Regions from separate parts of the Homo sapiens genome. Here region 1 is linked to region 2. Evidence: fine-mapped expression QTL. A gene starts in region 2. The other region holds a variant in brackets. All regions are shown on one strand. Distances are between the middles of the regions. Region 1 holds the start of LINC02918 (long intergenic non-protein coding RNA 2918). Region 2 holds the start of ATP6V0B (ATPase H+ transporting V0 subunit b).

The links. PIP is the estimated chance that this variant, and not a neighbour inherited with it, causes the effect.
Region 1: its variant is fine-mapped to the expression of ATP6V0B in tibial nerve (GTEx, PIP above 0.99). The same link has a PIP of 0.9 or more in cerebellar hemisphere, cerebellum, cerebral cortex, gastroesophageal junction, ileum and prefrontal cortex.

What each region holds. Positions count from the first base shown.
Region 1 is chr1:43,940,193-43,943,204 of GRCh38, forward strand. It overlaps LINC02918 (long intergenic non-protein coding RNA 2918), which reads right to left and starts at 349. Exons shown (of 2, transcript XR_947283.2): 1 at 38-349. The variant C/A (reference allele first, on the strand shown) is at 1,458.
Region 2 is chr1:43,973,454-43,975,953 of GRCh38, forward strand. It overlaps ATP6V0B (ATPase H+ transporting V0 subunit b), which reads left to right and starts at 1,507. Exons shown (of 8, transcript NM_004047.5): 1 at 1,507-1,654; 2 at 2,347-2,395. The coding sequence starts at 1,588. It overlaps LOC124904167 (a long non-coding RNA gene), which reads right to left and starts at 1,412. Exons shown (of 2, transcript XR_007066053.1): 1 at 990-1,412; 2 at 1-434. RefSeq lists enhancers at 660-1,493, 1,076-1,195, 1,246-1,295, 1,494-2,326 and silencers at 1,546-1,595, 1,996-2,045.

The sequences.
Region 1 (3,012 bases), 33 kb before region 2:
CATAATTTTTTGGATGGTTTATTCCTCATCCTCCTACCTGGTCTCACTGTCTCCAGTCACAACTCCCTCCAACCATTCTCAGCGCTGCAGCCAGATAAGTTGCCTTCTCTTCATATTAACCGAGCATGAACTGTCGTGCACTGGGCTAGTTTCAGGGATTCAGAGACCAGTGAGAAACATGTTTTGCCATCAAGGAAACTATACTTGGAGATGGAAGTAGGGGTAGGGTAGCAAATAAAAGTAAAAGACATCCTGTTAAATTTGGATTTCAGGCCCTGCGTGGTGACTCATGCCTGTAATCCCAGCACTTTGGGAGGCTGAGGTGGGCGGATCATGAGGTCAAGAGAGTGAGACCACCCTAGCCAACATGGTAAAACCCGGTCTCTACTAAAAATATAAAAATTAGCTGGGCGTGGTGGCACGCACCTGTAGTCCCAGCTACTTGGGAGGCTGAGGCAGGAGAATCGCTTGAACCCGGGAGGCAGAGGTTGCAGTGAGCCAAGATTGTGCCACTGCACTCTAGCCTGGCGACAAAGTGAGACTCTGTCTCAAAAAAAAAAATGGATTTAAGGTAAACAATAAATACACCTTTTTTTTTTTTAGATAGGGTCTTGCTGTGTCCCTCGGGCTGGAGTGCAGTGGTGTGATCTCAGTTCACTGCAACCTCCACCTCCTGGGCTCAAGCGATCCTCTCACCTTAGCCTCCTAACTAGCTAAGACTACAGGTGCATTCTACCACGACTGGCTAATTTTTAAATTTTTTTAATTTTTATTTTTTTGGTAGAGATGGGCTCTTGCTATGTTACCCAGGCTGGTCTCGAACTCCTGAGTTCAAGAGATCCTCCCACATTGGCCTCCCAAAGTGCTCGGATTACAGGTGCGAGTCACCATGCCTGGCCTAAATACTTGTTTTCAGTATGTCCAATGCAATAATTGAGACATACTTATACAAAAAAATTGGCTGGGCGTGGTGGCTCACCCCTGTAATCCCAGCACTTTGGGAGGCTGAAACAGGTGGATCGCTAGCGCTCAGGAATTCAAGACCAGCCTGGGCAACATAGTGAAACCCTGTCTCTACCAAAAATACAAAAACTTAGCCAGGTGTGGTGACGTGCATCTGTGGTCCAGCTACTTGGGAGGCTGAGGTGGAAGGATTGCTTGAGCCCAAAATCGTACCACTGCACTCCAACCTGGGTGACAGAATAAGACTCTATCTCAAAAAAAAAAAAAAAAAAAAAAAAAGGCTGGGAGCAGTGGCTCACGCCTGTAATCCCAGCACTTTAGGAGGCCGAGGAGGGCAGATCACGAGGTCAGAAGATCGAGACCATCCTGGCTAACATGGTGAAACCCTGTCTCTACTAAAAATACAAAAAATTAGCTGGGCGTGGTGGTGGGCGCCTGTAGTCCCAGCTACTCAGGAGAATGGTGTGAACCTGGGAGGCAGAGCTTGCAGTGAG[C/A]TGAGATCGTGCCACTGCACTCCAGCCTAGGCGACAGAGTGAGACTCCATCTCAAAAAAAAAAAAATTGTTGTTTATCTCATATTCAAAATTAAATAGATGGCCAGGTGCGGTGGCTCATGCCTGTAATCCCAGCACTTTGGGAGGCCGAGGTGGGCGGATCACGAGGTCAAGAGTTTGAGACCAGCCTGGCCAATATGGTGAAACCCTGTCTCTACTAAAAATACAAAATTAGCCGGGGATGGTGGTGCACACCTGTAGTCCCAGTTACTCAGGAGGCAGAAGAATTGCTTGAACCTGGGAGGCAGAGGTTGCAGTGAGCCGTGACACTGAACTCTAGCCTGGGTGACAGAGCAAGACTCCATCTCAAAAAAAAAAAAAATAAATAAGTGTCCTGATTTTTTTCTGGCAACCCTAGGTAGGGGTAAACAAGTACCCCAGTAGAAGTATGACTGAGGTTATAGGTATGTGTGTCAAGGAGGGGGCAGATTCTACAATCACAAAGGAAGAGGAATCAGTTTTTTCCTGGATAGACGCAGAAGAGGAAAAGTCTTTGTGGAAAAGGTGGTATTTGAACTGAGTCTTGAAAAATGAGTTTGTTTGCACAGGGTGGATTATAGGGTGGATGAGAGGCATGGAACCCGAACTGGTTATTGCTGATTGCCTTTATTTCCTCTCACTTCTAAATGTACACTGTTCATTGTGGCCATGTCCTGTCCTGCACGGTGTGGTTCTCAGCCCTGGACAGGAATGGAGTGGAGAGGTGAGGGCCTCTTCCTTGGGCTCTCCATCTCAGCCTGAAGACTCTGCTAGTCCTATATTCTTTAGATTTTTATTTGTTTATTTATTTATTTATTTACTTCTTACTAGCCAGTTCATCACAGCTTCAATTCCCTGTTACACTTCAAAATGCTTATGTTGAACTTTCCCTGCCTGCTGACTGTGTGATGTCTCTCTCCTGATGGCATCCAGAATGACACAGAGCCTTCTCAACAGAGGAAGTAGCATGAACAAAGACAGGGAAGTGTGAAACAGCCTGGTGCGCTCCCAGGATTGCCAGCAACTTCAGGTGGACTTGGGGAGGGTCCTCATCAAGACAAAAGACTGGAGAGGTCACAAAGGGCTTTGAATGTTATACCGAGAAGCTCAGCCTTCGCTCTGAAAGGAGCCACTAAAGGGTTTTAAGTGGGCTTGGTTAGAGATGTGTTTCAGATGGATCACTTGCTACTGTGTCTAGTATGGATGGAAGAGGCAAGGTGGGTGCCAGCTAGAGCTGCCATAGTTAGAGCCGTTCAGGCAACAAGCACAGGTACCTTGAGTTAGGGCAGAAGCAAATGTGCAAGGACAGAAGAGATGTGAGGGACAATAAGAGAGGTGAGGGCTGGATGAGAGATGGTTTCCAGGTGTCTAGCTTGGGGGACTGGTACAGAACACAGGGGATGTAGTATTTTAGCATGTGATAGGGGTAAGATGTGGGGAAAATGTGAGTTCAGTTTTGTACATGTTCAACTTTGGGTGCCTGTGGCAACTTCAGAGGGCCAGGAGGCAGCTAAATA
Region 2 (2,500 bases):
TCCTTTCCAGTGTACCTGGAAAGAGAGTTAAATACGCAGTCAGTACACAGTGAAACAGCTCTATCTGGGAGGAGGGAAGCCCCAGGGACAGCTGGATCCCACAGGAGATACCTGACAAGGACTAAGAGGAGGCTTCCCAGAGGGCATAACACCTATGCTGGATCTTTTGGAGGAAAAAATAATTGTCAGGAGAAAAGGAGTGAAAAAGACCTTTGGGCTTAAACATGAACCAACATGGCGGATGCTTCAAGCAAGTGGGGTTGCTGGGCCCTAAAGGTGGAGAGGGGTGAAATGAAAAGACTCGCCTCTTCTTCCCCACATTTGTTGAGAATCTGGTCACAGTGGCATTGTCGAGGGTATTGAAGGTGAACAAAGGAGATGTGGTCCCTGCCCTCAGGGAATGCCTAGTCTAATGGTGGAGGCAGAGCTGTAAGCTAACAAGGTAACCCAGACAAAGTGGGCATCAGTCATGTGTTCTACAAATATGTACTGAGGACACACTCTGTGCCAGGTACTGGAAATACAGCAGTGAGCGACACAAAAGCCATGGTGCTTCCACTCTTCCAGGGGAGTTGGACAAATAAAATACTTAGTATGCCAAATGGTGATCAGTAAGTACCGTGAGAAATGTAAAGCTGGGAAGCAGAGGAGCGTTTAAGTGGGGTGGAATATTAAACAGAATGGTCAGAGAAGGCCTTTTCAAGAAGGTGAGCAAAAACTGAAAGGAAGTTACAGGATGAGCCGCATGTATAGTTAGGAGAAGCAGAGAGAGCAAGTGCAAGGGCAGTGAGGTCGCGGTATGGTTGGCACGTTCAAAGAAATAGCAAGGAGGGCAGTGCAGCCAGAGGAGGGAGTTAGTGGGGGAATATTAGAAGGTGAAGTCAGCTGAGGGGCGTGGGGAGCCTAGCAGGCTATTGTGAGAACTTTGGCTTTTCTCCTGAATGAAATGGGAGCCATCAGGGCATTTCGACAGGGTAGTGACATCTTACTGAAGCTTAATAAGCATCACCAGGACATCGCGGGAGCCCAGCAAACGCGCTTCCCTGCCACTGGGTTAGGGAAGGCTTGCCGGAAGGACGATTTCGGAGGACAGCAGGTGTTAGCCAGGCAGCGGAGCGAGCGCCAACAGGCGCACTGGGGCGGAGAGACGCCGTGAGCAAGGTGAGGCAGAGGGCACGCGCGGCGCCACCCGCCACAGGCTAGGACGCACGGCTGCCAGAGAGGACGCCTTAGGGGCCCGCGAGCAGGCTCGGGAATAAAACAGGGCTGGCAGGGCGAGGTGGAGAGACTCGAGAAGGACCGGCCAGATGTCGAAGTTCCTAGAGAGGAGGGCGCCCAAGCCTCCGCCGAGACGCGTGACTACAACTACCACAATCCCCAGCGCCTGCGGTTCCAGCGTCGCCTTGCTCTAGACGGGCGGCGGCGCTGCGCGGGGAACCGGCGTGGGGTCACGTGGTACCGGCGCATCACGTGGGCGAGTTAGGTGACGCTGCGGGGCGGGCGGACAGACTGCGGGACGGACGGTGGACGCTGGGACGCGTTTGTAGCTCCGGCCCCGCCGTTCCGACCCCCGCCGCCGTCGCCGCCATGACGGGGCTAGCACTGCTCTACTCCGGGGTCTTCGTGGCCTTCTGGGCCTGCGCGCTGGCCGTGGGTGAGGCCGGGTCCTGGCGGGCGGGAGCAGCATCGCGGCCGAGCTGGCCGGGTCGGAACTCGGCGGGGAAGTGGCCTGCGGGGAATACTGGCCCCCCGCGCGCTCTGCACCCGAGGCTCTGGGGACTTGCGCCTGCGAGGGCCTCTGACTCCGACAAAGGAGACCCGGATTTCCAGCTGCTTGAGGAGGGGTGCGGGCGGGTAGGGGCCGCGAGGGCAGCACTCCCCCGTCCTGCCACTATCGCTGTCTCCCCTCGCTCCCACGTCTCACTGCTGTCCCCCCTTTCTTGCTCCTGACCGGCCCGCTCGGTCACAAGCCGGCTGCTCCGGTTCCTCTTTTCCCAGTCGCTTTGCCCTCCCCCACCCACAGCTTGTTGGGTAAACAGCGGAACGGACTGGGCCGGCGGGATCTGGCTGGAGCGCTTGCTCCCTCGGTCCCGCCTCGGATTCGGGCTTGCGGGTGGCGACCCTGCCTGCGCAGGTGCTTGGTCTGGGAGGTGGTTTTAGCGAGGGAATGGCAGAAAATGGAGGCCTAAGCAGAGGAATCTGTCTACACAGCTGTACTGTCACCTGGGGGCAGCCTGAGGACGCCCCTTCAGGGAGGTGGCCCTTCAGCTCGGCAGCTACTTTAGGTTGAAGAACTTCTCTCTACCGAGCAGCCCGTAACCCCCTTTTTCTCCCTCACTGCTGCAGGAGTCTGCTACACCATTTTTGATTTGGGCTTCCGCTTTGATGTGGCATGGTAAGGGAGGGCAGGGGGAGGATTCCCCTTGAAGCTTCTTCCCTGCAGCCTCTCTTCTTTTCTCTGGTCTGAGTCCCTCCCCCACACCACTGCCTGCCTGGGACA